Homo sapiens: one gene and its partners. The protein of the gene in region 3 interacts with the protein of the main gene of each other region in a biochemical or structural test. Each region holds a gene or a part of one and is shown on either strand. Other genes may lie near its edges. The genes, in order: STAT6, OCLN, PTPN2 and STX17.

Region 1 (7,326 bases), on a different chromosome or scaffold from region 3:
GTCTATCACTGAAGGAGTTACCCCCATCTCAGGCATTGACTCAGGATGCCCCTGGTTTAAGGTGGTCTGGCCATGAGTGGTGGTGGGGACGGTCCCTAGGAGGGCTATCTATGGGAGGTCCCTGGCTGCCCCAGGAGATAGGCCAAGTTTCTTGGGCACCCCTCAGAGTGGCCTTATTTTTCTCCTCCAGGCAACCTCCAAGTCCCAGATCATGTCTCTGTGGGGTCTGGTCTCCAAGATGCCCCCAGAAAAAGTGCAGCGGCTCTATGTCGACTTTCCCCAACACCTGCGGCATCTTCTGGGTGACTGGCTGGAGAGCCAGCCCTGGTGAGTCCTGGCTGCTCCCTGCTGGTCCCCCAAGTCTTCCCTAACTCATCTTCCTTCTCCTTAGATTTTTCTCCCCTCACCCATGGATTCAGAACTTGAGACCTGTTATTCCATGTGTAGTGACCTAGATTTAGCAGGGAGTCTGTGCCCCATCAAGACCAGGCTATGAATGTTGACAGATGGAGACCCCATCTCTTAGGAGGCTGAGCCGAAGAGGAGGGGGGTTTGGGCTGGGACAAAGGCACTTCTCATAACAGCTAGAAGACTGGGAAACAAGGCGCATGGGTGAAAGCTACAGAGGGCCTAGATGGAGAATAAGGAGCGAGAAAGGAACTGCTGAGCTTTTGGCTGTGGGGTAAAGGGTCAGGAGAGCTGAGGAAGCCCTGGCCTGAGGTAGCCTCATCCTGATCTTCCTGCAGGGAGTTCCTGGTCGGCTCCGACGCCTTCTGCTGCAACTTGGCTAGTGCCCTACTTTCAGACACTGTCCAGCACCTTCAGGCCTCGGTGGGAGAGCAGGGGGAGGGGAGCACCATCTTGCAACACATCAGCACCCTTGAGGTGGGGCAGGAGGGGAGGGGACAAGGCTGGGTGGGGCTGAGGTTGAACTGGGTTGAGCATTGGGCCCTGGAAGAAAATTGGTTGGATGCTGGAAGCAAATTGGTGTTCCTGTGGTTAACTGCTAGCTAGCAGGCAAATTAGATTTTAAAAGCATGCAAATGCACAAAAACTTCTGGAGTCTACAGTTGTGCTTCCTTATAGTATATGTGTGAATGCAGGCCTGGGGATTGGAGGGATTGAAGGACATGGGTAAGAGCAAAGCTCACTGTTTACCACCCTCATTTCTGTAGAGCATATATCAGAGGGACCCCCTGAAGCTGGTGGCCACTTTCAGACAAATACTTCAAGGAGAGAAAAAAGCTGTTATGGAACAGGTATTGTGATATTCCACCTCCCACCCCAACTCAATCCCCTGAGACTTTGGCCTGAGCCATGACAAACTAGAAAGAATTTGAACCTCAGTAAAGGCTCAGTGTTCTAGGCCCAGGAATGACCAAAGGAGGTTCCTAGGGTCAGAGTGAACCCCAAGTCAAGCTCAGGGAATCTTTCTATGAGGGACTGAAGGTAAGAGGCCGGGGAGAACAGAGCAAGGGATAAGGAGCTGATTCTGCTAGGAGCAAGGTCTTATCTCCACGATATTCCAAAAGGTCAGGAAGAACTGCCAAAGGGGAGAGGGGAACAAGAAAACGCTATCTGCAGAGCAGAGAGTGGAGGCCAGGTATAGAGGGATGAGCAGAGTGTTTCACTTCTTGGCATCTGTCCTTCCTGTGTAGTTCCGCCACTTGCCAATGCCTTTCCACTGGAAGCAGGAAGAACTCAAGTTTAAGACAGGCTTGCGGAGGCTGCAGCACCGAGTAGGGGAGATCCACCTTCTCCGAGAAGCCCTGCAGAAGGGGGCTGAGGCTGGCCAAGGTGGGGGCCAGGGTGGTTCTGGGGAGTGTGTAGGAGTGGTTGCCTCTTGGATCTCAACCTTATCTGAACCTCTAATCTGTCTGCACCCTTGATTTCTGCCCCCAACCCTCAGTGTCTCTGCACAGCTTGATAGAAACTCCTGCTAATGGGACTGGGCCAAGTGAGGTGAGTAATGGGCTGACAGGTGGAGACCTTGGTCAAAGTGCAGCTGGAGGGATGGAAGCTAGACCTCAGAAAGACACAGGCTGAAGTAGGGCAAGGGAATGCCAGAGGAGTGAGAAAAAGAGCCGTATCCCAGGAGCTGGGTGTGGAGGCAGCGTGAGGCCCTGGCTCAGGCCCCTCTCTGCCCATAGGCCCTGGCCATGCTACTGCAGGAGACCACTGGAGAGCTAGAGGCAGCCAAAGCCCTAGTGCTGAAGAGGATCCAGATTTGGAAACGGCAGCAGCAGCTGGCAGGGAATGGCGCACCGTTTGAGGAGAGCCTGGCCCCACTCCAGGAGAGGTTGGGCTAGGGCTGATGGGGAAGAGGGGGCAAGCTGGGGGTGGGCAGCTGACCCTGCTGAAGGCCCTACAGGTGAGAGAAAGAAGCCAGGCGGGAGGGCCTTGGAGTGGACCAAGATGCATAAAAGCCAGTTCCAGCGGGGCTGTGCACACTGTCGTTCAGGTCGCATCCTGTACAAGTGGGCCTAGTGGAGGGGCACAAGCGGGGACTCATCCAACCCAGGCTTCTCTCCTCAAGCCCCATGCCTAGAGGAATAGGAGGGCTTTTCCATTTGGTTTATTGGGTGGGAACACTTTCCAATTTGCCACAAAGCACTGTAAGTGGTGGCAGTTGTCCTGGGTGCAAGAGCCGTCGGGGGAGAGGCAGCTGGGTTTCCACAGGGGGTGTAGGCACTGAGAATGAACCTCCCACCCAGACCCTAGGCCAACAGATCACAGAACCCCCTTCAGCCCAGGTGCCTTGCAGCCACACCCACTACCCACCCCACTTCTCCACACATGATAGCCTTTCTCCCTGGGTATAGGGGAAGGGGGTCTGGGCCGGAGCAAGCAGCCTTAATCCTGTGCCCCCTGACCACTGTCCTGGCCCCAGGTGTGAAAGCCTGGTGGACATTTATTCCCAGCTACAGCAGGAGGTAGGGGCGGCTGGTGGGGAGCTTGAGCCCAAGACCCGGGCATCGCTGACTGGCCGGCTGGATGAAGTCCTGAGAACCCTCGTCACCAGGTATTCCCCGGGAGCTCCCAGTCTGGCCTAGAACAGACCTCGGGAAGAAAAGAAGGGGGCTAGAGCTGTGGGGAGGGCACCAGCAGGGACCTAGCCCCCAACTCCCCTTGTGTCCTCCTCACTCCCAGTTGCTTCCTGGTGGAGAAGCAGCCCCCCCAGGTACTGAAGACTCAGACCAAGTTCCAGGCTGGAGTTCGATTCCTGTTGGGCTTGAGGTTCCTGGGGGCCCCAGCCAAGCCTCCGCTGGTCAGGGCCGACATGGTGACAGAGAAGCAGGCGCGGGAGCTGAGTGTGCCTCAGGGTCCTGGGGCTGGAGCGTAAGCTGGGATTGGACCTGGGGTTGGAGAAGGGCTGTTAGGGTGATGGAGGCAGCCTGGAGGGCTGGCACTGAAAAGAGCAAGGGATGGGGAGGGAGGGCCATGGGATGTGGAGACCCTGAATGGTCAAGGCAGAGGAAAGGGAGGGACCCATTTAGGGCTGGAATGGGGTGGGGGCATCATGATTTGGCCAAGATGGGGACTCCTCCCTTAAGAACCCAAACAGAGACATGGAGATTTAGGGCTGGTGACAGTGGGTAGTCTACACTCACCCATGCACTCGCCACACCTGACGACAGTGAGATGAGCTCGTTCACACTCTGACCTCCCCTGGCAGAGAAAGCACTGGAGAAATCATCAACAACACTGTGCCCTTGGAGAACAGCATTCCTGGGAACTGCTGCTCTGCCCTGTTCAAGAACCTGGTGAGGGGCTTTGGGGTGCAGTGAGGGGGGCACCACTAGGAGACTGTGGGACTCTCCTTGGAGAGGATGTCAGGAAGCCCAGGAGGAGCGGTCTCTGTCCTCATGACCTCGCCCTTGCTCTCCCTCACCCCACCCACAGCTTCTCAAGAAGATCAAGCGGTGTGAGCGGAAGGGCACTGAGTCTGTCACAGAGGAGAAGTGCGCTGTGCTCTTCTCTGCCAGCTTCACACTTGGCCCCGGCAAACTCCCCATCCAGCTCCAGGTGAACCGTGGCCCAGCCCTGCCCCAATCTGGGACCCCGAGTCCTCCTCCAATGCCACACACAAGGGCCCTGGACCCTCACCTCTTGTGACTGCCCCATACCCCATGTGTCTGGGATTCATGCACACTGGGGCCCGGGTGAGTGGGGGTGAGCAAGAGCATGGAGTGCACAGGGCAGGGAATGGTAGTGGATAGCAGCAAACACTTCGGAAGCACTTCCTATAGACCAGGGCACTCTATTAAATGATACATACGCACATGCGTGCCAGCACACACACGTCTGGTTTTCACAATAACATTATGAGGTAGGCAGTATTATCAGCCTCATTTTATAGATAAGGACATTGAGACAGAGAGTTTAAGTAGTTTGTCCCAGTCACACAGCTAAGTGTTGGAGCTGGTATTTGAAACCTGGAGGTCTGGTTCCATAGCGATGACTAATAACCACTTCTCTACGGTGAGGCCCTGATTGAGCTTCAGAACGCATTTAATAACATGGCATGAGCTTTTTGATTATGATGTGTGAGTCCAATAACTTCTCTGAGTGCTCAGAGCCAGTCCCCTGAGGAAACTTCTTGCTTCACTAAGAAACCCCTGTCCGGCTGGGCATGGTGGCTCAAGCCTGTAATCCCAGCACTTTGGGAGGCCGAGGTGGGTAGATCACAAGGTCAGGAGTTCAAGACCAGCCTGGCCAATATGGTGAAACCCCGTCTCCACTAAAAATACAAAAATTAGCTGGGCGTGGTGGTGCAGGCCTGTAGTCCCAGCTGCTCGGGAGGCTAAGCAGGAGAATCGCTTGAACCCAGGAGGCGGAGGTTGCAGTGAGCCAAGATTGCGCCACTGCCCTTCAGCCTGGGCGACAGAGCAAGACTATGTCTCAAAAACAAAACAAAACAACTCAGCACTTTGGGAGGCCAAGGTAGGAGGATCGCTTGAGCCTGCAAGTTTAAGACCAGCCTGGGCTACATAGGGAGATCCAATCTCTACAAAAAATAAAAAATTGGCCGGGCATGGTGGCTCACGCCTGTAATCCCAGCACTTTGGGAGGCCAAGGCGGGCGGATCATGAGGTCAGGAAATCGAGACCATCCTGGCTAACACGGTGAAACCTCGTATCTACTAAAAATACAAAAAATTAGCCAGGCATGGTGGCGGGCGCCTGAGTCCCAGCTACTCGGGAGGCTGAAGCAGGAGAATGGCGTGAACCTGGGAGGGAGAGCTTGCAGTGAGCCAAGATCGCGCCACTGCACTCCAGCCTGAGTGACAGAGCGAGACTCTGTCTCAAAAATAAATAAATAAATAATTAGCTGGATTAGGTGGTACATTTCTGTAGTTCCAGCTATTCAGGAGGCTGAGGTGGAAGGATCACTTGAGCCCTGAAGGCTGAGGCTGCAGTGAGCTGAGATTGCACTACTGCACTCCAGCCTGGGCAACAGAGTGAGATACTATCTAAAAAAAAAAAAAAAAAAAAAAAAAAAAAAAAAAAAAAAAAAAAAAAAAGGAAAGAAAGAAAGAAAAGAAACCCCTGTCCTCACCCTCTTCAGGCCCTGTCTCTGCCCCTGGTGGTCATCGTCCATGGCAACCAAGACAACAATGCCAAAGCCACTATCCTGTGGGACAATGCCTTCTCTGAGATGGTGAGGAAAGTCCTGGAGTTGGAGGGAACAGGGGCAGGGTGGGTTCTAACATGGGCAGTGGTGCAGGCCTGCTGATGGGGTGGTGGGCATGTTTAAATGGGTGTGACCTTAACACTTTCTCATGGGCCTGCTTTCGTGCTTCTGACCTCTTTTCACCCCAGTCTTAACAACTATCAGGCCACAGCACTGTAACCTAGAAAAAACAGCATGTTTGTGAGCGATATCAGGGGCTGTGGAGGGGTAGGCCACAGGCAGGTGGGAGGGATGAAGGCCGGCCCGAGGAATAACAAGACGGTAGCCTGCAGTGCTCTCTTCTTCCCCCTTCTCCCCAGGACCGCGTGCCCTTTGTGGTGGCTGAGCGGGTGCCCTGGGAGAAGATGTGTGAAACTCTGAACCTGAAGTTCATGGCTGAGGTGGGGACCAACCGGGGGCTGCTCCCAGAGCACTTCCTCTTCCTGGCCCAGAAGATCTTCAATGACAACAGCCTCAGTATGGAGGCCTTCCAGCACCGTTCTGTGTCCTGGTCGCAGTTCAACAAGGTCATTCTCCTGCCCTTTGGACCTCCCACCCCCAAGCTCTTCATCCCTGGGGCACTCAGGGCCTGCTCAGCCTCCATGCAGGGACCTTCCACTGGATTCTCCACAGTGCCCCCTCAGGTCCTTTAGGAAGGCCTGTCATGGACCAGGGAGGAAAAACCCCAGGCCTGGGGGTTGGCTCTGGAGATGCGTTCTCTGACATCCCTGAGGTTTTGGTCTGGGGGCCATCTGTCCTTCCTCTTTACCAGTGACTTGCATGACTCACCCAGGTTGTGTGTAAACAGAGCTCTGATTCAAAGTGACTTTGACCTGTTGGAAAAATAGTTCCTGGCCGGGCACAGCGGCTCATGCCTGTAATCCCAGTCTTTGACATGCCGGGGTGGGTGGATCACCTGAGGTCAGGAGTTTGAGACCAGCCTGGCCAACATGGTGAAACTCCATCTCTACTAAAAATACAAAAATTAGCCAGTTGCGGTGGCACATGCCTGTAATCCCAGCTACATGGGAGGCTGACGCAGGAGAATTGCTTGAACCCAGGAGGTGGAGGTTGCAGTGAGCTGAGATCATACCACTGCACTCAAGCCTGGGTGACAGAGCAAGACTCTGTCTCAAAAAAAAAAAAAAAAAAAGGCCAGGCATGGTGGTTCATGCCTGTAATCCCAGCACTTTGGGAGGCCGAGACGGATAGATCACCTGAGGTCAGGAGTTCGAGACCAGCCTGGCCAACATGGCAAAACCCCGTCTCTACTAAAAACAAAAAAATAGCCAGGAGTGGTCGTTTGCGTCTGTAATCCCAGCTACTCGGCTGAGGCAGGAGGTGAACCCAGGAGGTAGAGGCTGCAGGGAAGATGAAACCATTGCACTCCAGCCTGGGCAAGACTCTGTATCAAAAAAAAAAAAAAAAAAGGCTAGGTGTGGTGGCTCACACCTGTAATCCCAGCACTTTGGGAGGCTGAGGCGGGCGGATCACAAGGTCAAGAGATCGAGACCATCCTGACCAACATGGTGAAACCCCGTCTCTACTAAAAATACAAAAATTACCTGGGCATGGTGGCGCATGCCTGTAGTCCCAACTACTCGGGAGGCTGAGGCAGGAGAATCACTTGAACCTGGGAGGCAGAGGTTGCAG
Region 2 (7,326 bases), on a different chromosome or scaffold from region 3:
AATGAGACTCAGCCCCTCCCCCAGATTTAATTAGAAGTGGAGCCTTGTCATCAATATTTTTTAAGAGTTTCCAGAGTGATTCTATCACATATCTCAAGTTGAAGGCCTCTGCTAAGGAGATGGAGAAAAAACCCAAAACACCACTCATACCTCCTGGGGATCCACAACACAGTAGTGATACAAATACTGATCCACGTAGAGTCCAGTAGCTGCAGGTGTATAAAATTGGTTGCAGAGGGCATATATTTGTGAACCATATAGAGATCCAGAAGACTGAGCAGTTGGGTTCACTCCCATTATATAGACAATTGTGGCAATAAACACCATGATGCCCAGGATAGCACTCACTATTATCACACTTAAGTAGTATCTTCTTGTTCTGGACATTTCAGATCTTATAACACTGGTAACAAAGATCACCAACGCGGCAATGAAACAAAAGGCAGCCATGGCCAACATGAAGCCCTTTGCTGCTCTTGGGTCTGTATAGCCTCCGTAGCCATAGCCATAACCATAGCCATAGCCATAGCCACTTCCGTAGCTACCAAAGCCACTTCCTCCATAAGGGTAGCCTACACTACCTCCTAAAAGGGAAGTTCCATAGCCTCTGTCCCAGGCAAGCGTGGAGGCCACACAGGCAAAGATGGCAATGCACATCACAATAATGAGCATAGACAGGATCCGAATCACTCCTGGAGGAGAGGTCCATTTGTAGAAGTGAAGAATTTCATCTTCTGGGTAAAAAGAGTAGGCTGGCTGAGAGAGCATTGGTCGAACATGCATCTCTCCACCATATATGTCATTGCTTGGTGCATAATGATTCGGTTTGCTGAAATGAACATGAAAATAATTTCAAGTTAGCATTTTTTGGTAGTAAGCAGAAAGAACACAACTTATTTGGAATAATTTAAACCATTGGGTAAATGAAACTAAAGCTTATCTGTGCACAGGAATCACCTGGAGGGCTTGTTAAAACATAAGATTATTGGCCTCTAGCCACAACCCATTCTGCTCAGACATTTGGGTTATCTCTGTTTGGGGGTATTGTAAACAGTTTAACTATAAACATCCTTGAATGTGTATTCTGGTACGGAACAGTACTTATTTTTCTAGGGTATATAACCAGGAGAATTTCTGGATCACATATTTTTATATCTTCAACTTCACTAGACAGTATCAAACTGTTTTCCAAAGTGATTGTACCAATTACCTACAGTGGAATGGGTAACTGTAATATATCCATACAATGGAATACTCCATAGCTATACTGTCCAATGTGGCAGCCACTAGCCACTTGGGTCTATCATACACTTGAAATGTATCTAGTCCGGCTGGGCACGGTGGCTCATGTCTGTAATCCCAGCACTTTGGGAGGCCAAGGCGGGTGGATCACTTGAGGTCAGGGGTTCAAGACCAGCCTGGCCAACATGGTGAAACCCCATCTCTACTAAAAATACAAAAATTAGCCAGACGTGGTGGCATGCGCCTGTAATCCCAGCTACTCAGGAGGCTGAGGCACGAGAATTGCTTGAACCCGGGAGGTGGAGGTTGCAGTGAGCCGAGATCGTGCCATTGCACTCTACCCTGAGTGACAGAGCAAGACTCCGTCTCAAAAAAAAAGAAATGTGGCTAGTCCAAACTGAGATACGCTGTTAAAATGCACAGTGGAGAGTCTGAGGTGGGCAGATCACTTGAGGCCAGGAGTTTGAGACCAGCCTGGAGAACATGGTAAAACCCTATCTCTACTAAAAATACAAAAATTAGCCAGGCATGGTGACACATGCCTGTAATCCCACTTACTTGGGAGGCTGAGGCACGAAAATCAAGAATCCCTTGAACCCAGGAGGCAGAGGTTGCAGTGAGCTGCGATCACACCCACTGCACTCCAGCCTGGGTGACAGGGCAAAAAAATTTAAAAATGCACAATGGATTTCAAAGATATAATATGAAGAAAGAATGTAAAATATTTCCTGAATCATTCATTTTTTACATCAATCACGTGATGAAGTAATGTTTTAGATATACAAGATTAAGTGAAATATATTAAAATTAATTTCTTCTTTTGGCCAGGCACGGTGGCTCACGCCTGTAATCCCAGCACTCTGGGAGGCCGAGGCGGGTGGATCACCTGAGGTCAGGAGTTCGAGACCGGCCTGGCTATCCTGGTGAAACCCCATCTCTACTGAAAATACAAAAACTAGTTGGGCGTGGTGGTGTGTGCTTGTAATCCCAGCTACTTGGGAGGCTGAGGCAGGAGAATCACTTGAACCCAGGAGGTGGAGGTTGCAGTAAGCCGAGACCGTGCCATTGCACTCCAGCCTGGGCAAAAAGAGCAAAACTCTGTCTTAAAAAAAAAAAATTATCTTTTTATTTTTAATGAAAGTATAAAATTACATATATGGCTCATGTTATATTTCTACAGTGCTATGAAGCCAAAACTGATGAACTATGAATACATGCAGTTACAGGTAATGCTGAAAAAAATGAAAAAATACATATCGCATTATTATATTTACATAAAGTTTTAAAACAGGTAAAACTGGCCAGATGTGGTGGCTCACACCTATAATCCCAGCACTTTAGGAGGTGGGCGGGTCACCTGAGGTCAGGAATTTGAGACCAGCCTGGCCAACATGGCGAAACCCCGTCTCTACTAAAAGCATAAAAATTGGTTGTGCATTGTGGTGGTTACCTGTAATCCCATCTACTTGGGAGGCTGAGGCAGGAGAATTGCTTGAATCCAGGAAGTGGAGGTTGCAGTGAGCCAAGATTGTGCCACTGCACTCCAGCCTGGGCAACAAAGTGAGAGTCTGTCTCAAAAATAAATAAATAAAACAGGTAAAACTAAACTGAAATGTTTAGGATATACAAGATGATAAAATGATAAAAGCAGGTAATGATCATACGTCAGGACAGTGGTCTCCAGAGAAAAGGAGAGGACACAGGGAAGGACTTTGAAGTGTTCTGTTTCTTGACCTGGGTGATGAGTATGTATGTTTGCTTGGTCTTTCCTCATGATCTCCTACATATGTTCTGTGTCCTTTTCTTTATGTATGTTGCAGTTCACCATTATTTACAAAAGCAACACAAAATAAGTGTCAGATTAGTGGTGCATTACTCAATTACTATATTCTCTAGTATGTTTTAAAAACTGTATTGTCATAAACAACTTGTGTCCCCACCATGTTTTAGGCACTAGTAAGGAGGTTAAAGAACTGGAACACAACCTTCACGTGATATTGTAAAATATGTATTTAGTCTTCATCTCCATTTTCTGGCATACAACTCCTAAAATCTTTGGACTCTCCAAAGTGATAAGTATCCCTTATATGCTAATGAGATGATAGGTTCCTGGCAGCCCTAGGAAGCTTCAGGATGGGAGCTAGGATTAGAGGGTTGGAACTTTTCAGCCCCAACCCTCTCTGGACAGGAAAGAGGGGCTGAAGCTTAAACTGCTCACCAATGGCCAATGATTTAGTCAATCATGCCTATGTCATAAAGCTTCCATAAAAACCCAAAAGGACCGAATTCACAGAACTTCTGGACAGCTGAACATGTGCAAGTTCCTGGAGGGTGGCACAACCAGGGAGGGCTGCTTCCCACATACCTCGCCCTGTCCACCTCTTCATCTGGTGTTTGTTGGCATCCATTGTAATATCATTTGTTTGTTCATTCATTCATTCATTCTTAAAAGACAGGGTTTCCCTATGTTGCCCAGGCTGGCCTCAAACTCCTGGGCTCAAGCAATCCTCCTGCCTCAGCCTTCTGAGTAGCTGGGATAACAGGCATGCACCACCACACCTGGCTTTTGTAATACCCTTTATAATAAACCAGTAATGGTAAGTACTGTTTCCCTGAGTTCTGCAAGCCACTTTAGCAAATTAATTGCACCCAAGGAGACAACTGTGGGAATCCTGATTTACTGTAGGTGGGTCAGAAACACAGGCCACAACCTGAGCTTGTGGCTGCTACGTGAAGTGGGGGCAGTCTTGTGGGAATGAGCCCTGAACCTGTGATCTGATGCTATCTCTGACAGTGTCAGAATTGAACTGATAATTAGAGGACACACAGCTATTGTCCACTGTAGAACTGATTACTTGGTTGCTGGTGGGGAAATATCCCCACAAATTCTGGTGATCAGAGGTCACAGATGTGTTGTGACAGAACAGCAGGAGAAACTGTTTGTTTTTGCCTATATCACACTCCACTACACTTATCATGGTTAAAGCTGCAAACTACTTAGAGGAGGAAATCCCTATCAATGTTTGATAGCAAATTTGGAATTCAAAAATTCACTGATAAGTCTTCACATGACCAAGGAGCCCAAAACCCCTCAACACTGCTTGTTTTAGATCATGGCAGGAATCACTCTTAAAACTGACAGTATGGAAAGTATTATGCTAAGTGAAAGAAGCCAGTTACAAAAGGCCACATATTACGTGATTTCTCCATTTATACAAAATATGCAGAATAGACAAATCTATAGAGACAGAAAGTAGACCAATAGTTGCTTAGGGCTGATGGAACTGGGAGGTGACTGCCAATGGATAGGTTTCTTTGGAGAGTAATGAAATGTTCTAAAATTAATTGTGGTGATGGTTCTACAACTCTGTGAATATACTAAAAACCATTAAACTATCCATTCTAAATGGGTAAATTGTAAAGTATGTTAATTATATCTCAATAAAGCTGTTATTTTTATTTATTTATTTATTTTTTGAGACGGAGTTTTGCTCTTGTCACCCAGTCTAGAGTGCAATGGCGCCATCTCAGCTCACCTCAACCTCCGCCTCCTGGGTTCAAGCGATTCTCCTGTCTCAGCCTCCCAAATAGCTGCAATTATAGGCATGCATCACCATGCCCGGCTAATTTTGTATTTTCAGTAGAGATGGGGGTTTCTCCACGTTGGTCAGGATGGTCTTAAACTCCCGACCTCAGGTGATCCACCCGCCTCGGCCTCCCAAAGTGCTGGGATTACAGGCATGAGCCACCAGGCCTGGCCTTTTTTCTTTTTTTCAGACGGAGTCTCGCTCTGTCTCTAGGCTGGAGTGCAGTGGCGTGATCTCGGCTCACTGCAACCTCCACCTCCTGGGTTCAAGTGAATCTCCTGCCTCAGCCTCCCAAGTAGCTGGGATTACAGGCAAGTAGCTGGGATTAGAGGTGCGCGCCACCACAGCCAGCTAATTTTTGTATTTTTAGTAGAGACGGGAGTTCACCATGTTGGCCAGGATGGTCTCGATCTCTTGACCTTGTGATCCGCCAGCCTCGGCCTCCCAAGGTGCTGGGATTACAGGCGTGAGCCACCGCACCCGGCCTAAAGCTGTTATTTTTAAAAACTGACAATATGTTCCCAATGGCCACCTAAATGAGGCATTTAAATGGAAGCTTCATTATCATTTGTACAAAACAAAAAGGAACATACAAATATAAACCTTGGCAATCTCTTGAAACAAACATTAGGAATAGGTGACAGCAGTTGTCCTAGCAGAGACAAACTGTCATTCTGAAAGTTGAGAGAAATTCAGTTTTCAGTGCAGACCCTTTGATACAATTTAAATTTACAAGTACACATATCGTTTTATTTTTAAAAGCAAACACTTAAAGTTTCAACCATACTTATTGTTTACATGTGATAGACTTTTTAAAAGAGAATAACTAAAGAATTATTTACTTACAATTCATCAGGCCTGTAAGGAGGTGGACTTTCAAGAGGCCTGGATGACATGGCTGATTGTCAATGGTCAGCTGATCTTCAGGATGAGCAATGCCCTTTAGCTTCCAAGATAAACCAATCTAAGCAACAAAAGTAGAGTTATGGCATTACTACTAAGCTCACAGTTTCTTTCTTTTCTTCATCCCACCCCCACCCCGAGACAGGGTCTCACCCTGTCACCCAGGCTGGAGTGCAGTGGTCCAATCACAGCTCACTGCAGCCTTGATCTACCAGGCTCAAGTACTCCTCCTACCTCAGCCTCCCAAGTAGCTAGGACTACAGACCTGCACCACCATGCCTGGCTAATTCCTGTATTTTTTGTACAAAAATTTGAAATATATATAATTTCATATTACTTTTGAAAGTTCATATTAAATGAGAATGTATAAGAAAGTGCACATATAGCCGCACTAGCACATACTAGCTCCTCAATGCAAAGTAACCATCTAATGGGTTAAATGCCTTTATCATTAAAAATGATAATAAAATGCATCTATAAATGGTGGAATTGTAGATATTTTTCCCTTATCTCCTTTTCCAAGTCTTCGAAACTGAGCACAATTTTTATACAAGGGGAGAAAAAACAATATGCATGGTATTAATTGGTCATTTTCTGAAATTTTGTCCTAAAATTCTTCAGCACAAGTTCCTAAACATCTGAGGAGAAATTTCACTCAACAAGCATTTATTAAGTGCCTACACTAGACCAGGAGAGCCTGTGGGAGTGACGTATGACAGCCAGCGCTGGGGTCCTGGCTCTTCCAGGCTGGTGTGGTGCTGATAACACAGGTGGCTAGCTTATGGAACAGTGAAGTGGGAGCATGGTGGAATGGTGTCATCTTTTAAAATAAGGTTACAGTAAGAATATAGTGGATGGAGGATGAGTAAGAAAAGGGAGGGCTTTGAAAGTCTAGTGGGAGTGTCTCACTTCCTTCAGGTAGGAAACAGGGAGCCAGTTCGTGATTCTCGGCAAGGGAGGTGTAAGTTTGATTTGAACCAGATTTGAAAGACAAAGTCAACAGTAAAAAGGAGCACCTACAGTCAGCAGCAGCAAACCTAGGTGTGAGGCAACAATGAAGGACTAGCTTAGGAGACAGAAGATAGGAAGGAAACTAACATTCATCAGACACCTACCGACGTGCTGGGTGCTTTACATAAAACCTCCTTTCATCCTCAAAACGACCCTCCATGGTTGATTAGTCACTTTACAGATGCAAAGAGGGTCAGAAAGAGATGTGAAGTAATATGCTCAAGGTTATATGGATGTCAGTGAGTCACTCAGATGTAACTTGAACCCAGATGATTTCATGTGCTTTTCACTATGCTAGTTTGAAACAATGAGTTCCATTTGGGAAACACCAGTTTTTGTGGGGAGTGCACATCTGGTGTTAGCATCCATGAGGAAGTGAAGATGGAGGTCATCTGCCTACGTCCGTAGGTGGATCCATGGGCACTGAGAGCTCTCCAGGAAAAAGACAAGTCTCAGCAAGATGTGGTAAACACACAACCCCCTAACCTATAAAGCTTGAGGATTATTCTAGAAAACCCAGTGCTGGAGACACTGGCAAGGTACTTCCCACATCAGCTACAGAACTTCATGCCACTCCTTAGCT
Region 3 (7,326 bases):
GTGTATGTATGTATGTATGTGTGCGTGTTACATATATATATAAAACACCATTTTTTTTCCAACTCAATAGGGACAAATTTTTGTGTTGTGAATCACTTAACAATAGCTTTGTAAGTTATTTTCTTGACTATTTTGCTATTCTTGGCAGTCACAGGTCCTGGGAGCTATTGCTTGCTGGGCATTTACTAAGGTCAGGTGCTCTGCATACACATCCTCATTTGACCTTCAGGACAGCCCCGGAGGGAAGGCGTGGTAACCTCCATTTTACAGATGAGGAAGGGATCAGTGAGGGTGGGGAACAAGTCTAAAGTACAGCTCTACTAAGCAGCAGAGCTGGATCTGAATCCAGGTTTGCCTGATTCTAAAGCCCTCTCTATTAATCCTCATGTATTTCTATTAATTAATTTTTAATCCCCAAATATCAAACTGAACTTTGAAATTCTTAGTTTCTACTGTTTCTTCAGAGTCCTCAGAAAGCTACTAGATGCAGACACACAATCTAAAAACACGTGATTATGGCTAGATACTATAGGAATTATCCAAATGCATGTGCTTATCAAACTTCAAATCTAATAATAAAGAATAATTCTTTAAACCATCATATAAAGTCCACAATTTCGGGCAAGAAAGGTCTTACATTGATATTTTCTAATTGTAGTAGATGTACTGTATAATACGACTTCACATCTTCTGACAAGAGCTTCACACTGAATCCTGTTTCTTTAAACAGCATCTCTTGGTCATCTGTTGGCCAGTACTGTGCACATTTAACCTAAATTTAGAAATATGTATATGATTTTTTTTTAGTTTATAGACATCATGAAACCATAAAGTTAAAAAATGAAAACAAACCAGATATATACATGCTATATTTTTTCAAGTACCCAAAACTAAGAAGTCACTACTATATTCTACGCTTAATGTATTTTAGTAAGATTGAAATTTTATAGCCGGGCGCGGTGACTCACGCCTGTAATCCCAACAATTTGGGAGGCTGAGGCGGGAGGATCACCTGAGATCAGGAGTTCGAGACCAACCTGGCTAATATGGTGAAACCCTGTCTCTACTAAAAATACAAAAACTAGCTAGGCGCGATGGCGGGCGCCTGTAATCCCAGCTACTTGTGAGAGTGAGGCAGGAGAATCGCTTGAACCCAGGAGGTGGAGGTTGCAGTGAGCCAAGATCATTCCACTGCACTCCAGTCTGGGTGACAGAGCAAGACTCCATCTCGGGGAGCAGGGCGGGTAGAGATTGAAATTTTATAAAGCATTTTTTATGTGTGTGCAGTCATCACTGTAAGCCAGTTTTAGAACATTTCTCTCAGACTCAGAAATCCCCTTGTGTCCTATTCCCACTCCAAGCCACAGGCAAGCACTGATCCATTTTCTGTCTCCATAGGCTTTTCTTTTCTTTTGAGCTGGAGTCTTGCTCTGTCGCCCAGGCTGGAATGCAGTGGCGTGATGTTGGCTCACTGCAACCTCTGCCTCCTGGGTTCAAGCAATTCTCCTGCCTCAGCCTTCTGAGCAGCTGGGATTACAGGCGTCTGCCACCACACCCAGCTAATTTTTGTATTTTTAGTAGAGACAGGGTTTTGCCATGTTGGCCAGGCTGGTCTTGAACTCCTGACCTCAAGTGAACCACCAACCTCAGCCTCCCAAAGTGCTGGGATTACAGGCGTGAGCCACCATGTCCGGTCTTATAAGGTATTTTTTAAGTGTTCCTGTAACTTATAAACTAAAAAAGCCATAGGTATCATATTCATAAAATAAAAATAAATTTATCATTCTTAAAGCATGATTACCTATATTTTAACGTCATGGGACATTCACTTTATGTTTCTAAAATTATCAAACTCTTGCAATAATTTTATCTTCAAAATAAATGTTGCTGGCCAAGCGCGGTGGCTCACGCCTGTAATCCCAGCACTTTGGGAGGCTGAGGCAGGCGGATCATGAGGTCAGGAGATCGAGACCATCCTGGCTAACACAGTGAAACCCCGTCTCTACTAAAAATACAACAAATTAGCCGGGTGTGGTGGTGGACGCCTGTAGCCTCAGCTATTTGGGAGGCTGAGGCAGAAGAATGGCGTGAACCTGGGAGGCGGAGCTTGCAGTGAGTCGAGATAGCAGCACTGCACTCCAGCCTGGGCGACAGAGCGAGACTCCGTCTCAAAAAAAAAAAAAAATAATAATAATAATAATGCCTTAAGAGGAAAATAAATAATTTTTTTTTTTTTTAAGAGACAGTGTCTTGCTCTGTAGTAGCCCAGGCTGGAGTGCACTGGGGTGAACTTGGCTCACTTCAGCCTCAATCTTCTGGGCTCAAGCAATCCCCCAACCCCAGCTGGGACTCCAGGTGCGTGCCACCACACCTGGCTACTTTTTGTATTTTTTGTAGAGGCAGGGTCTCACTTTGTTGTCGAGGCTGGTTTTGAATTCCTGGGCTCAAGTGACCCTCCTGCCTCAGCCTCCCAAAGTGCTGGGATTATAGGTGTAAGCCCTCCAACCTGGCCAGAAAAAAAAAAATTTTTTTTAAGTAAAATAGAAATAAAGAGATAAACAGGATTAAAGAGAACGTGACAAATAAAAAAGGTAGGCAAAGAAAATCCAACATACGTATAATAGGAAGACCCAAAGAAGAACATTAAAGCAAGCAAGGGAGCAGAACAAATACTAAGGACTGTAATTCAACAAATATTTCTTTAACAAAAAGTATTTAAAAAATTTTAAAAAGTACTTGAAGTCAAACTCTCAAGAACACATCATGTACCTGTAAAAACTGACCCAGAATGGCCAATTACTAAGACATATTTTTGGTAAAACTAATAATATCTGAAGAAAAAGAAAAAAAGAATTCTTTGGGTAGTGCAGATAAAAAGAACAAGAGACTTATAAAGGAAATAAGATGTCCATTAGACTTTGGTGGAATACCAGAAGGAAATGGAAAAAAAAAGTTGTTCAAAGAATAGCACATGAGCCAAGGATTTTATATCCCGCCAAACTGACTTTCAGATATTAAGACAGCAGATGAACCATCACTGACATGTAAAAAAATCAGACTATAATGCTCACAAGTCCCTCCTTAGGAGCCACTAGAGAATGAGCTTTAGTCAGAATGACTGGAGAGACATCAGCAAAGACTGTTGATGAATATTAAATAATGCTTGCTTGTAGAACTAAGAGTCTACAAGAGATGTAAGGGAGAGACTACAGTTTGTAAAGTACAACTCAGAAACACCAGGAAGAGAATGAAAAAAATATTAAAAATTGTAAACCATTTTCAGTAATTATTTTGGTAGCAGATGATATCATGATTATGGTTATATATTGTATATGATATGGGAAGAAGGAAATGAGTCATTACAAGATAGTTTACATCTCTCATATCTTTGAGAACCAGGATTCTTGGTATGAAAAAGGAAATAGCAGATGTAAGATGGAAGGGGCTAAGCAACACTTATAGTTCCAAATTTGAACTGGGAATATCATTATGAACTCTTGAAGTATGTTATCTTAACATATGCATATTGTTCCTTAGCTTTTGTCCACTGAAAAGCCCTAAAAACAATGACCAGTCCAGTTGCAATATATATCCTTATTTTTGCTGTGATCTTGAAATACTGCTGCCCATTAAAAGAAACCAAAACTCCTTAGAGAAATGGCTGGTTCCAGGTCTGGGCAGCAAGAGTTTGAGATGAGCCTGAGATGCAGTCATTACAGACAGCAAAAAAAATTTTTTTTTTTTGAGACAGGGTCTCGCTCTGTCCCCAGGCTGGAGTGCAGTGGCACGACCATAGCTAACTGTAGCCTTGACTTCCTGGCCTCAAGTGATCCTCCTGCCTCAGTACCCCAGGTAGCTGGGACTACAGGCATGCGCCACCACACCCAGCTAATTTTTGTATTTTTTGTAGAGACAGAGTTTCACCATGTTGCCCAGGCTGGTCTCAAACTCCTGGGCTCAAGCGATCCACCCAACTCAGCTCCCCAAAGTGCTGAGATTACAGGTGTGAGCCACTGCACCCAGCCAAGGAAACTATTAAAGGTTTGTTAAAAAGGACTCAGAGCTGGGTGAGGTGGCTCACGCCTGTAATCCCAGCACTTTGGGAGGCCGAGGTGGGCGTATCACTTGAGGTCAGGAACTTGAGACCAGCCTGGCCAACATGGTAAAACCATCTCTACAAAAACTAGCTGGGCATGGTGGTGGGTGCTTGTAATCCCAGTTGCTCGGGAGGCTGAGACGGGAGAATCTCTTGAACCCGGGAAGTGGAGGCTGCAGTGAGCTGAAATCATGCCACTGCACTCCAGCCTGGGCAACAGGCGAGACTCTGTCTCCAAAAAAAAAAAAAAAAAAAGAGGACTCAGGACCCAACCTAAAGACATTGCTGCTAGCCAATGACAGGGTAATTTGATCAAAAATAAGGAAAATAACTGCAAAGGAGTAAAATTAATCCAGTATGTCCAAACCCATAATAATTCAACCTCTCCTGCCACTCTCCACCAGAAAAACTCCTAATTGGTCATCTGTTGAGAACAGATGACCTCAATAGGGAATCAACTTTTTTTTGGAAAACTGCTTTTAAGAGAAGTAATGACAGAATTGGATTATCATCATTTGTAACCCATAATGAATTAAGAAGCTGAACACTGACCAATAATGGCTATTAATGAAATAAAAAGAACAATAATCAGACATTATGGGTCTCTTGATGAATAACACATTACCCACCACCTCTGAAGTAATCTTCCCCAAAATAATTAAACCTGACTCTTGTTAACCATCTAGGTTCAACCACCATAAACATGATTTCTAAATTCTGGTGGCAGTGTTATCTTATTAATACAGTAATTATACTCCAAAATGAGAGAAATAAAATTTGCAAATCATGTAGTCTACAATGGTGCTCAAACTGACAATGTCATAATCCTTGATTTTTTTTTTTTTCTTTTTTGAGATGGAGTCTCACTCTACCGCCCAGGCTGCAGTGCAGTGGGTTTTGAGATGGAGTCTCATTCTATCATCCAGGTTGAGGTGCAGTGGCACAATCTCGGCTCACTGCAACCTCCACCTCCTAGGTTCAAGCGGTTCTCCTGCCTCAGCCTCCCAAGTAGCTAGCATTACACCTGGCTAATTTTGTATTTTTAGTAGAGACGGGGTTTCACCATGTTGGCCAGGCTGGTCTCAAACTCCTGACCTCAAGTGATCTGCCTGCCTCGGCCTCCCAAAGTGCTGGGATTACAGGTTTGAGGCACCGTGCCTGGCCTAATCCTTAATTTTTAAATGATATTGAAGATCAGGAAAAACCCCTGTAAATGACTATGCTGATACTGCTGGAAATTCTGGCATGTCATTGCCACATCTAATTAGAAGTGGATTAGGAAATTTTCATCATCATTAAAAACCAGCAATTATGAAATGTAGAATAAAGTAAGAAATCTGAAGTAGAACAGTACAAGATCTTAAAGCTGGAAGAGGACTTATTGACAATAGGTCAATAAGGATTCCTAGGGATTCCAAAGATCTATATGTCACTGCTAGTCCATATTTATTCCATTGTATTTCTATCTTGGAGATGAAAGGTCTGCAATTGTTATAAAAATACTTAAGAAAGGAAAAGGATACATGAGTTTTTCCGGACAGAAACACTTTGACCGCTAGCCTTTAGCAATTAAAGGCCAAAACTAAGGAATGAATATTGGCCCCAAAATGAAAATCTTTATATGCTAATGATCACATACAGTATACTAAGTTGTAAATATTAAATATTACTCACCGATTCTTTCTCCACAATGCGGTTCAGCATGACAACTGCTTTGGTCTTCTGCTGCCAAACCATAAGCCAGAAATGGCAGCATGTGTTAGGAAGTGGACCCTGTGAAGAGAGAGGAGAGAGAGCAGATGAGGGAAGCAGACAGAAAGAGCAAGGCTCCAGGAAGGCCTTGTTAAGTCTGCTCCTGGGATGTTACAAGACAGACAGCGGACGGGCTTATAAGAAGTAAACCAAGACTTCCAATCTACCTGATTTCAAAAACAGGTCTGTGTTAGTTAGGATTTTTGGTTGTAAATGATCAAAACTGACTTTTATTTTCTCAGGCAAAAAAGGAATTGTGTAAGATATCAAGTGGCTTTCAGAGTTGAGGACTAGAGAGACAAACTTGGGTAGGAACCAAGGGTTAAGACACAAGCAAGGTCCTGCCCCAAAGAAAGTCAACCTGGGATGCTGCTCTTGATACCGTCACTACTATCTCCTTGCTTTTGCTGGCACTGCCATATGAAGGTGGCTATAGTATTCATGTACAATCTATAGGCAAATCAGAGACAAAATCACGAGTAGGAGTATCTGACTGATCATGTTCTAGCTGCAAAGAAGGTAGACCAAGGAAATTTCTGTCCTCTTCATCTTCTACAGCCAAGAGGATGTGCCTCCCACACATCATAGAAAATCCATGAGAAAAAAGTCTGTACCATCACTGGCCAGCCAACCAACTCAAGTCAACTACAAAAAGATTTCTAGAAAAAGTAGGAATCATTAAAGTACCTGAACCACAATGAAACTGTTAATCTACAAATGCACAGTATGTACGGCCTCAATGGAAGAGTATTGGGCAGAGTTAAAAAGGGGCAACAGTCCATGTTACAACAATGCCATGGGGATAAAAGCAAAATATTTCATGTATTTCCAATTGCTTTCACATTTTAATGATAGCATAGGGCAAAAGGAAGATCTAATAAGAGATGAAAAGCCTATGTACAAATTTTAACGAGTTTTAAATGAGAAGGTTAAAATGAGATGTAGTTTTGCTACACCTAAAATAACTATGAACATGCATTCAACTCACATGGAATGTAGCAGAGTGGTATGAGTTAGGGGCAGAGTCAGGAGTGGGGGCTAGGGCTGCCCAGAGCTTCAGACCCACATACAACAAGGGGGTTAAAGTGGTTCTAGACTAAAAGCATTTTTTATTTTTTGAGATGGTGTCTCTGTCACCCGGGCTAGAGTGCAGTGTCACGATCTCAGCTCACTGCAACCTCCACTTCCCAGGTTCAAGAGATTCTCCTGCCTAAGCCTCCCACGGAGCTGGAATTATAGGCACCCGCCACCACACCTGGCTAAATTTTGGATTTTTAGTAGAGACAGGGTTTCACCATGTTGGCCAGGTTGGTCTCGAACTCCTGACCTCAAGTGATCCACCTGCCTCAGCCTCCCAAAGTGCTGGGATTACAGGTATCAGCCATGGTGCCCAGCTGACTAAAAGCATCTTTAGGCCTGGTGTACTCCTTGGTATGTAGCAGATACTCAATAAATATTACTTAAATGAATAAACCAAG
Region 4 (8,132 bases), on a different chromosome or scaffold from region 3:
GGTCTAGAGGACTAGAGGACGGTGGCCCTCTTCTCACAGCTCCACTAGGTAGTGCCCCAGTAGCATCTCTGTGTGGGGGCTCTGACCCCACATTTCCTTTCTGTACGGCCTTAGCAGAGGTTCTCCATGAGGACCCCACCCCTGCAGCAAACTTTTGCCTGGGCATCCAGGCATTTCCATACATCCTCTGAAATCTAGGTGGAGGTTCCCAAACCCCAATTCTTTACTTCTGTGCACTTGCAGGCTCAAAACCACGTGGAAGCTGCCAAGGCTTGGGGCTTGCACCCTCTGAAACCACAGCCCAAGCTCCACATTGGCCCCTTTCAGCCACAGCTGGAGCAGCTGAGACACAGGGCACCAAGTTCCTAGGCTGTACACGCACGAGGACCCTTGGTCCAGCCCATGAAACCATATTTTCCTCCAAGGCCTCCAGGCCTGTGATGGGAAGAGCTGCTGTGAAGACCTCTCACATGCCCTGGAAACATTTTCCCCATTGTCTTGGCGATTAACATTTGGCTCCTCATTACTTATGCAAATTTCTGCAGACAGCTTGACTTTCTCCTCTGAAAATGGGATTTTCTTTTCTGTCACATTGTCAGGCTACAAATTTTCCAAACTATTATGCTCTGCTTCCCTGATAAAACTGAATACCTTTAACAGCACCCAAGACACCTCTTGAATACTTTGCTGTTTAGAAATTTCTTCCACCAGATACCCTAAATCATCTCTCTCAAGTTCAAAGCTCCACAAATCTCCAGGGCAGGGGCAAAATGCTGGCAGTCTCTGCTAAAATATAACGAGAGTCACTTTTGCTCCAGTTCCCAACAAGTTCCTCATCTCTATCTGAGACCACCTCAGCCTGGACCTTATTGTTAATATCACGATCAGCATTTTTGTCAAAGTCATTCAACAAGTCTCTAGGAGGCTCCAAACTTTCCCACACTTTCCTGTCTTCTTCCGAGCCCTCCAAACTGTTCCAACCTCTGCCTGATAACCAGTTCCAAAGTTGCTTCCACATTTTTGGGTACCTTTTCAGCAACGCCCCACTCTACTGGTACCAATTTACTGTATTAGTCCATTTTCATGCTGCTGATAAAGACATACCCAAGACTGGGAAGAAATACAGAAGAACTGTATTTGGACTTACAGTTCCACATGGCTGGGGAGGCCTCAGAGTCATGGCGGGAGGTGAAAGGCACTTCTTACATGGCAGCAGCAAGAGAAAATGAGGAAGATGCAAAAGTGTGGAAACCCCTGATAAAACCATCAGATCTCTTGAGACTTATTTACTACCATGAGAACAGTATGGGGGAAATCGCCCCCATGATTCAAATTATCTCCCATGATTCAAATTATATCCCACCAGGTCCTTCCCACAACATGTAGGAATTATGGAAGTACAATTCAAGATGAGATTTGGGTGGGGACACAGAGCCAAACCATATCAGTGGGAGAAGCTTCCTAGGTGAGATGACTTTTGAGTCCAGCAGAATAAAGAGTAATTTCTTTACTCTGGGGTGGGGGGAAAGAGATGGGGGAAAGCAGGCAAAAAATGGCATTCTAAGAAGAAAGAGTAATAGTTGCAAAATCAATTTGGATTTTTTAAAATGTTTTATTATAGAAATCATAAAGGGGGCCTGGTGTGGTGGCACACACCTGTAATCCTAGCACTTTGGGAGGCTGAGGTAGGAGGATCACTTGAGCTCAGGAATTGGAGACTAGACTGGGCAACACAGGGAGTCCCAATTTCTAGAAAAATAAAATTAGCCCAGCATAGTGGCATACACCTGTGGTTCCAGCTTCTTGGGAAGCTGAGGCAGGAGGAGGTCAAGGCTGCAGTGAACCATGATCACCCCCATTGCACTCTAGTCTGGGTGACAAAGCAAGATTCTATCTCAAAACAAAACACGAAGGAAGGAAGGAAGGGAGGGAAGGAAATAAGAAAGGAAAGGAAAAGGAAGGAAGGAAATAAGAAAGGAAAGGAAAAAAGGGAAGGAAGGAAGGAAATAAGAAAGGAAAGGAAAAGAAAGGGAAGGAAGGGAAGGAAGGAAGGAAAAAAGAAAGAAAAGAAAGAAAAACAAGAAAGAAAGAAAAAGAAAGAGAAAAATCATAATGGGATTTTGATAAATTTTTAAGTTAGTTTGGTGGAAATGGACAACTTTACAATATTGACTGTATTACTTTTCCACATAGTCAAGTCTTTACTTGTATCTTATATGGAAATATGGAAGTCAGGTTAAAGTATAAATACTGTTACGTAAGATTTGAGTCTTACTCCTGTTATGTAGTATATGAGACTTGGACCTTGGTCAAGTTACTCTCTAAGCCTCAATTTCCTAGTTTGTATGAAGGGGGTGATTGTAATACCTACTTCATGGGTTGTCATCAGTATTAAATAACATATTGCATGTAAAGCGCCTAACCAAGTGCTTTACACATCACATGCAATCAAATAAAAAGCTACTTCTTCCCCCCTCCCTTTTTACATGGCTTTATTTAGGTATAATTCACATACAATAAGCACTTATACATAAACATATTTACAGTGTACAATTTGGTAAGTTTTGACATATATATACGTCCATGCAGCTATTACCACAATCAAGATAATGAACATTTCTATCACTCCCAAAGTTTCCTTATGCCCCTTTGTGATCCTTCCTTCCACCCCTATCCCTCATCTAGCTATTATTCTCAATTCTTCAAATAGGTCTTGTAATTCCTTATAAACACAAACTTGATTTTTGTCATTTTTGAATGTAATCTTCCTCCCAGTACATTTCAATTTTTTTTTTTTTTTTTTTTTTTGAGACAGGGTGTCAGTCTTTTCTGCAGGCTGGAGTGCAGGCTGGTGGGATCATAGTTCATTCCAGCCTCAAACTCCTGGGCTCAACTGATCCTCCTGTTTCAGCCTCCTGAGTAGCTGGGATTATAGGTACATGCCACCATACCCAGCTACGTTTTTTTTGTTTTTTTTAGAAATGGGGTCTCACTATTTTGCCCAGGTTGGTCTTGAATTTCTAGCCTCAAGCAATCCTCCCTCATTGGCCTCCCAAAGTGCTGAGATTATAGGCATGAGCCATCACGCCCAGTCTTCTTCTCATTACATTTTAAAATTGATGATTGTTGTTTAGGAGAGGTATTTTATAGCCATCTTATTGAATTAGTTTCAGTTTATTCCATGGATTTTCCAAGAAAGCAATCAATCATAACACCCTAAGAATTTTTTTTAATTTTCTTTCCAACATATACACTTAATGTTTTGTTTGGACTTGCTGGGTTCAGTTAGGACTTCAGGAAAATGTCGGCCAGTAGTAGCAGGCCTGCCCCTAACAACTTGATGACCTAGAGTACACAAAAGAGGTCCACACACCATATGTTTGAATATTTAAAGATTATAAATCAAGCTAACCAACAGTTAGATTAAAAGGTTTTGGTCGGGCATGGTGGCTCACACCTGTAATCCCAGTACTTTGGGAGGCCGAGGCGGGCGGATCACGAGGTCAGGAGATCAAGACCATCCTGGCTAACATGGTGAAACTCTGTCTCTATTAAAAATACAAAAAATTAGCCGGGCATGTTGGCACACGCCTGTAGTCCCAGCTACTCAGGAGGCTGACACAGGATAATCGCTTGAATCTGGGAGGTGGAGGTTGCAGTGAGCTGAGATCATGCCACTGCACTCCAGCCTGGGCGAAAGAGCAAGACTCTGTCTAAAAAAAAAAAAAAAAAAAAAATGTTTATCCTACTACTTTGACACACCTAACTTACAGCAAACATACATATAACAACTTAGAAGTCCAGGTCCAAATTTAGAATCTTTGAGTACCACACCTCCTGATTTTGTACCTGAGGAAGCTTTTTCAGAACTTAACACAAATGATCTTTTATTTCAAAAGATCTTATTTCACTGATCCTTGCATAAAAAACATTTTCTCACAGTATTGCCTAATACTTTAATTTTTCTCCTTAGAATCAAAATTTGATAAATACATTCTGGAGCTCATTGTAAAACAAATATCAGTATACATTATGTCCCCAAAGAAAATCCAAATTGCTTGGTAGATTTGGTGCTTTGTTTTAGAAATTGTCTTTCAAGGCTTTTTAAAGGATCTACAGGCCCCTAATCTTCCCTGTTTACCTCCTACTCTACTGGAAGACCCTAAGAACTCAGTTTCCTTAACTGTGGTTTGAACATCCTGATCACTTCTGAGACAATGCCATTAGTGAATACATTCTAAGCACGTCATCTGAATATTCACAGACATCTTTTTAAAAGGGCTGGATCTGGAAGTTAGGCCATGAAGAGAGGAGGACCTGTGACTTGGACAAGGCTTCAAAGCCGGCCACCTGCTTGTTCATGTGGTTGCAGCTGGTCTAACTGGAATAACTTGGGAAGGAAATTAGGACACCCAGTTGGAGTTCCAGCTCTGCCATAAGCTGGCTGAACTGGAGTGAGTCACTTAAAACTCTTTGTTAAACCCCAGAGTCATAATCTATAAAATCGGGATAAAGACGTTTGCCTTAAGCCCTCCACCAGTTTTTGGAGGAAACCACAATTTGCTGAGCTTTAATTTTTACACCTGTTGCAATTAAGATGGCACTCCTGCCCTGTCCACTTCACAGGGCTTTTGGGGACGGGATGGGGAGGCACCACCTTTCTGAGCTTCAGTTTCAAAACAGAGCTAAGAATACATGCCCAACCCGCAAATAAAATTCTAGGAAGAACAGAGGAAAACGGACAGGAAAACTGCGAAATGCAGTCGGCCATACAAGCATGAATTGTCTTAAACACAACAAGCAGACCTAAAGAGCGTTTGTGCGTCTCTCTCCTCTTGGCTCGAGTCACAACCCCATAACGTAAATCAATATCACTTTTGAAAAAGGCTTTCGCTGTTCTCAGCAGCGTCCGCATTTGTACTCACCTGTGCGCCCCCAGCGCCCGGCCTGGGGGCCCTGCGGGGCGGGGGCGGGGGCGGGGGCGGGGCCCAACCCTGCCCACCCCTCGTGATGCCCCGCCCCGTCGCTCCTGCGCCTGCGCCGTGCCCACCGACCGGCCTCGAGCGCCCCGGCGGGAGGTAAGGGGCTCTCTGGAGGCCGCCTTTGGGGGCGTCGGGCCCTCACAGGCTTGGTGGGCCTGGCGCCCGTGTGGCGCGCGCAAGAGGCGCTGGGCGGCAAGTAGGGCATTGGATCCGAAGTGCGAGCGCCATGGTGGCTCCTCCTGTTTTTCAGAAGTGGCGGAGCCTCGCTTGGTTTCGTTTTTGGAAGCTTTATTGGAAGCTGGTATAGGGAGGCCGCAGACGATGCGAGCAGGACGGCCTCCCGGGGTCGCGGGGTGGAAAAGTTTCCGGCGCGCGTCCTGTCTCTGGCGCGCTGTAGGCCCCGGGTCGCCAGGGTCGCTGGCGTCTGGGTCCCGGGACAGACCCGCGCATCCGTTCGCTGGTGGGGGCGTTTGGTGTGTGTGGCCCAGGTGTGCTGTGGGTGACACTGCGAGGAATGACGCGACGCTCGATGGTAGTGAGGCTCGGAGGACTGGGAGCGAGAGGCCGGAAGCCCCTGCTCGCCAAACCCAGAGGTGGTTGGCAGAAGGTCCCACACCTTGGCTCCCTCCTTTTAGCTAACCGAGGTTCAGAGAGGAGACTTTACTTTGACTTTTCTCTCCAAATTCGGTATCTCTTCCATAAGTCAGAAACATTAAGCGGCGGGCCGGAAGAAATCGGGCGCCACTAGTATCCTGAAAAGTGGGAGCTCTGGGCCGATGGAAGGTGTTCGTCACTTTTGGGGGCTGGGTTTCCTGAGAAATGGGGTCTTTCACTTATTAATAACCTCCTAAGTAACTTACTGGGAAACATGAGTATTATGGTACCCATCTCATATTAGTTGTAAGCACTACATGATAAAGTTTGTAAAGCACCTGGCACAGTCCTGGCACCCCTCTCTCCAAGTATTAATGCAGTGAATACGATGGCAGTTCTTTGACTTCTAAATGTTTTTACCTGTCTTACGTGAAACATCCTCTTATACTAAAAAACTTTTTTATTTTGAAATAATTTTAAAATTACAGAAAAGTTTCAAAAGTAATACAGAGTTCCCTATTGCCTCCATTAATAATTTTTTACATACCATAGCGCAATTATCAAAAGCAAGAAGTTAATATTAGTATAATACTATTAACTGAATTACTAACTTGTGATTTTTTTTCCTGTATTAATGTCCTTTTTCTATTCTAGGATCCACTCTAAGACCCGACATTGCAGTTAGTTGTCTTGGGTCCTTGGTCTCCTCCAGTCTGTGACAGTTCCTCTGTCTTTTCCTGTCTTTACACTGATAGTCTTTTTCTGTCTTTATACTCTTTCTGATCTTTACACTTTTGAAGAATGCTGGTCAGTTATTTTGTAGAGTGCCCCTCAAATGGGGTTTGTCCAGTGTTCTCTCATGATTAGATTAAGGTTATACATTTTTGTTAAGAACACAAAAGTGTGTGTGCCCTTCTCAGTTCATCATATGAGCATAGCTGATATATATGACTTATTGCTCGTGAGGTTAATCTTGATCACTTGGTAGAGAGTGTCTGCTGGGATTCTCCAATGTAAAGGTCTTATTTTTCTCCTTATAATTGACATCTTGGGGGGGAGCTTTTAAACCGTACGCATATCCTGTTTCTCCTCAGACTTTCCCTTGCTAAATTTCACATCCATTGGTGGATCTTGCCTTCAGCAATTATTATGACTATGGTGTTCTAATGATGATTTTCTACTTTCCTCATTTCTTTATTAATTGAAATTATTCTGTAAGGATGAGCTGCCCATTTCCCATTTGTTTATTTGTATTCCGTTATTTATTTGTATCCATGTGGACTTAGATGTTTTTCTATTGGTTGTTATCCTACACTTGTGTTATTTTATGTTTGAAATTGTTCCAGCTTTGATCATTGGGAGTTTTCTTTCAGGTTGCTTTCTGTAGCTTTTCAGCATGCTTCCATCCTTTTTTTTCTTTTTTGGAACTTCCTAATTTTCTGGTACCATAGGATGCCCCAGGCTCATCTTGTGTTTTCTGTGCCTCAGCCCTGATAGTCAGCCACTTCTCCAACGACCCGTAGTTTCTTTTTTTGGAGAATAGTATTTAAACACAAAGATCTGTGCTCTAGGGATGCTCATTGCTACTGGGGTAACATTGCTTCCAGGGCCCCACAGAAGACACCAGTCTATACATATGCATACCCATGCATACACAAAGATCTATGTTTATTTCTGTATTTGTCTATCCATATACTTTTTAAAAACAAAAGTTCATCCCAGTAGCTTTGCTTCTAGTCTAACACCACAGGGTTCATTCTAGTTTTGTCCCTTATTTTTAACTTTTTATCTGACAGTGAGAAATCTGACTCTTGGCATTCTACAAAATATTTTCTTATTTCTTCAGTCCTAGTATACACATAAAGTAATTTCAGGATTTCTGACCTATGTTCCTGTGAGAAACACATTTACTAAATAGAGTACAGTGTAGTTCTTTTTGTCTCTAGGCTTATAGTATTCAGTTAAAATATTGTTTTCTAAAGTGGCTTAGATAATTTTTCTTCCTCACTTCTTTCAGTGTGGTTATGCTATTCGTTTATAATACAGTTTATGTTTTTATAGTTTATATTCCATTTTGGAGGGAAAGAGTCTAAAGGTAGACTAATTGAAGCTCCATTATCATGGCTATGCATATTGTGCTATTTGACTAGAGTGATAGGATTAGCAATTGTATAGAAGGGACGTGTGAAGAAATATTTTAGTTCAGGCAGCATCTATTGAACAACAGGTGTGTTCAAAAAACATTTTGATAGGAATGATGGTAGATATAAAGATAATCTCTTTGTGGTATAGAAGAAAAGAAAAGAGGCAGTGTGATAGATTGGGAAATGTTAATGTTAGACAAATAATTGATACATTTAACATGTAATAGCCTTTTATGAGTTAATAAGAGAAAGACATCCCCTGTAGTAAAAACAGATGCATATGACATGAACAGGCAATTCATGAAAGAAGAAATGCAATGAGTACAAAAAAATAGTGATAGAGGATGAATAAAATATAGTACTTGATAGCCGAACAGGGTGACTATAATAATTCAATTGTATATTTAAAAAT

What was found.
Region 1: of the proteins of PTPN2 (region 3) and STAT6, one has a biochemical effect on the other in vitro, tested with the Homo sapiens proteins (one study listed by BioGRID).
Region 2: of the proteins of PTPN2 (region 3) and OCLN, one has a biochemical effect on the other in vitro, tested with the Homo sapiens proteins (one study listed by BioGRID).
Region 4: of the proteins of PTPN2 (region 3) and STX17, one has a biochemical effect on the other in vitro, tested with the Homo sapiens proteins (one study listed by BioGRID).

Annotation. Positions count from the first base shown.
Region 1 is NC_000012.12:57,101,164-57,108,489, reverse strand, and holds part of STAT6 (signal transducer and activator of transcription 6), read left to right. Parts: intron 1-190; 5' UTR 191-211; coding exon 212-327; intron 328-746; coding exon 747-885; intron 886-1,175; coding exon 1,176-1,259; intron 1,260-1,658; coding exon 1,659-1,797; intron 1,798-1,909; coding exon 1,910-1,962; intron 1,963-2,150; coding exon 2,151-2,299; intron 2,300-2,890; coding exon 2,891-3,022; intron 3,023-3,150; coding exon 3,151-3,339; intron 3,340-3,676; coding exon 3,677-3,764; intron 3,765-3,898; exon of another isoform or gene 3,899-3,903; coding exon 3,904-4,026; exon of another isoform or gene 4,027-4,130; coding exon of another isoform or gene 4,131-4,163; intron 4,164-5,568; coding exon 5,569-5,661; intron 5,662-5,993; coding exon 5,994-6,200; intron 6,201-7,326. UniProt on the Homo sapiens protein: Carries out a dual function: signal transduction and activation of transcription. Involved in IL4/interleukin-4- and IL3/interleukin-3-mediated signaling.
Region 2 is NC_000005.10:69,502,644-69,509,969, reverse strand, and holds part of OCLN (occludin), read right to left. Parts: intron 5,794-7,326; 5' UTR 5,726-5,793; coding exon 5,676-5,725; intron 830-5,675; coding exon 151-829; intron 1-150. UniProt on the Homo sapiens protein: May play a role in the formation and regulation of the tight junction (TJ) paracellular permeability barrier.
Region 3 is NC_000018.10:12,825,173-12,832,498, forward strand, and holds part of PTPN2 (tyrosine-protein phosphatase non-receptor type 2), read right to left. Parts: intron 5,870-7,326; coding exon 5,771-5,869; intron 773-5,770; coding exon 638-772; intron 1-637. UniProt on the Homo sapiens protein: Non-receptor type tyrosine-specific phosphatase that dephosphorylates receptor protein tyrosine kinases including INSR, EGFR, CSF1R, PDGFR.
Region 4 is NC_000009.12:99,901,629-99,909,760, forward strand, and holds the start of STX17 (syntaxin-17), read left to right. Parts: upstream 1-5,025; 5' UTR 5,026-5,078; exon of another isoform or gene 5,079-5,575; intron 5,576-8,132. UniProt on the Homo sapiens protein: SNAREs, soluble N-ethylmaleimide-sensitive factor-attachment protein receptors, are essential proteins for fusion of cellular membranes.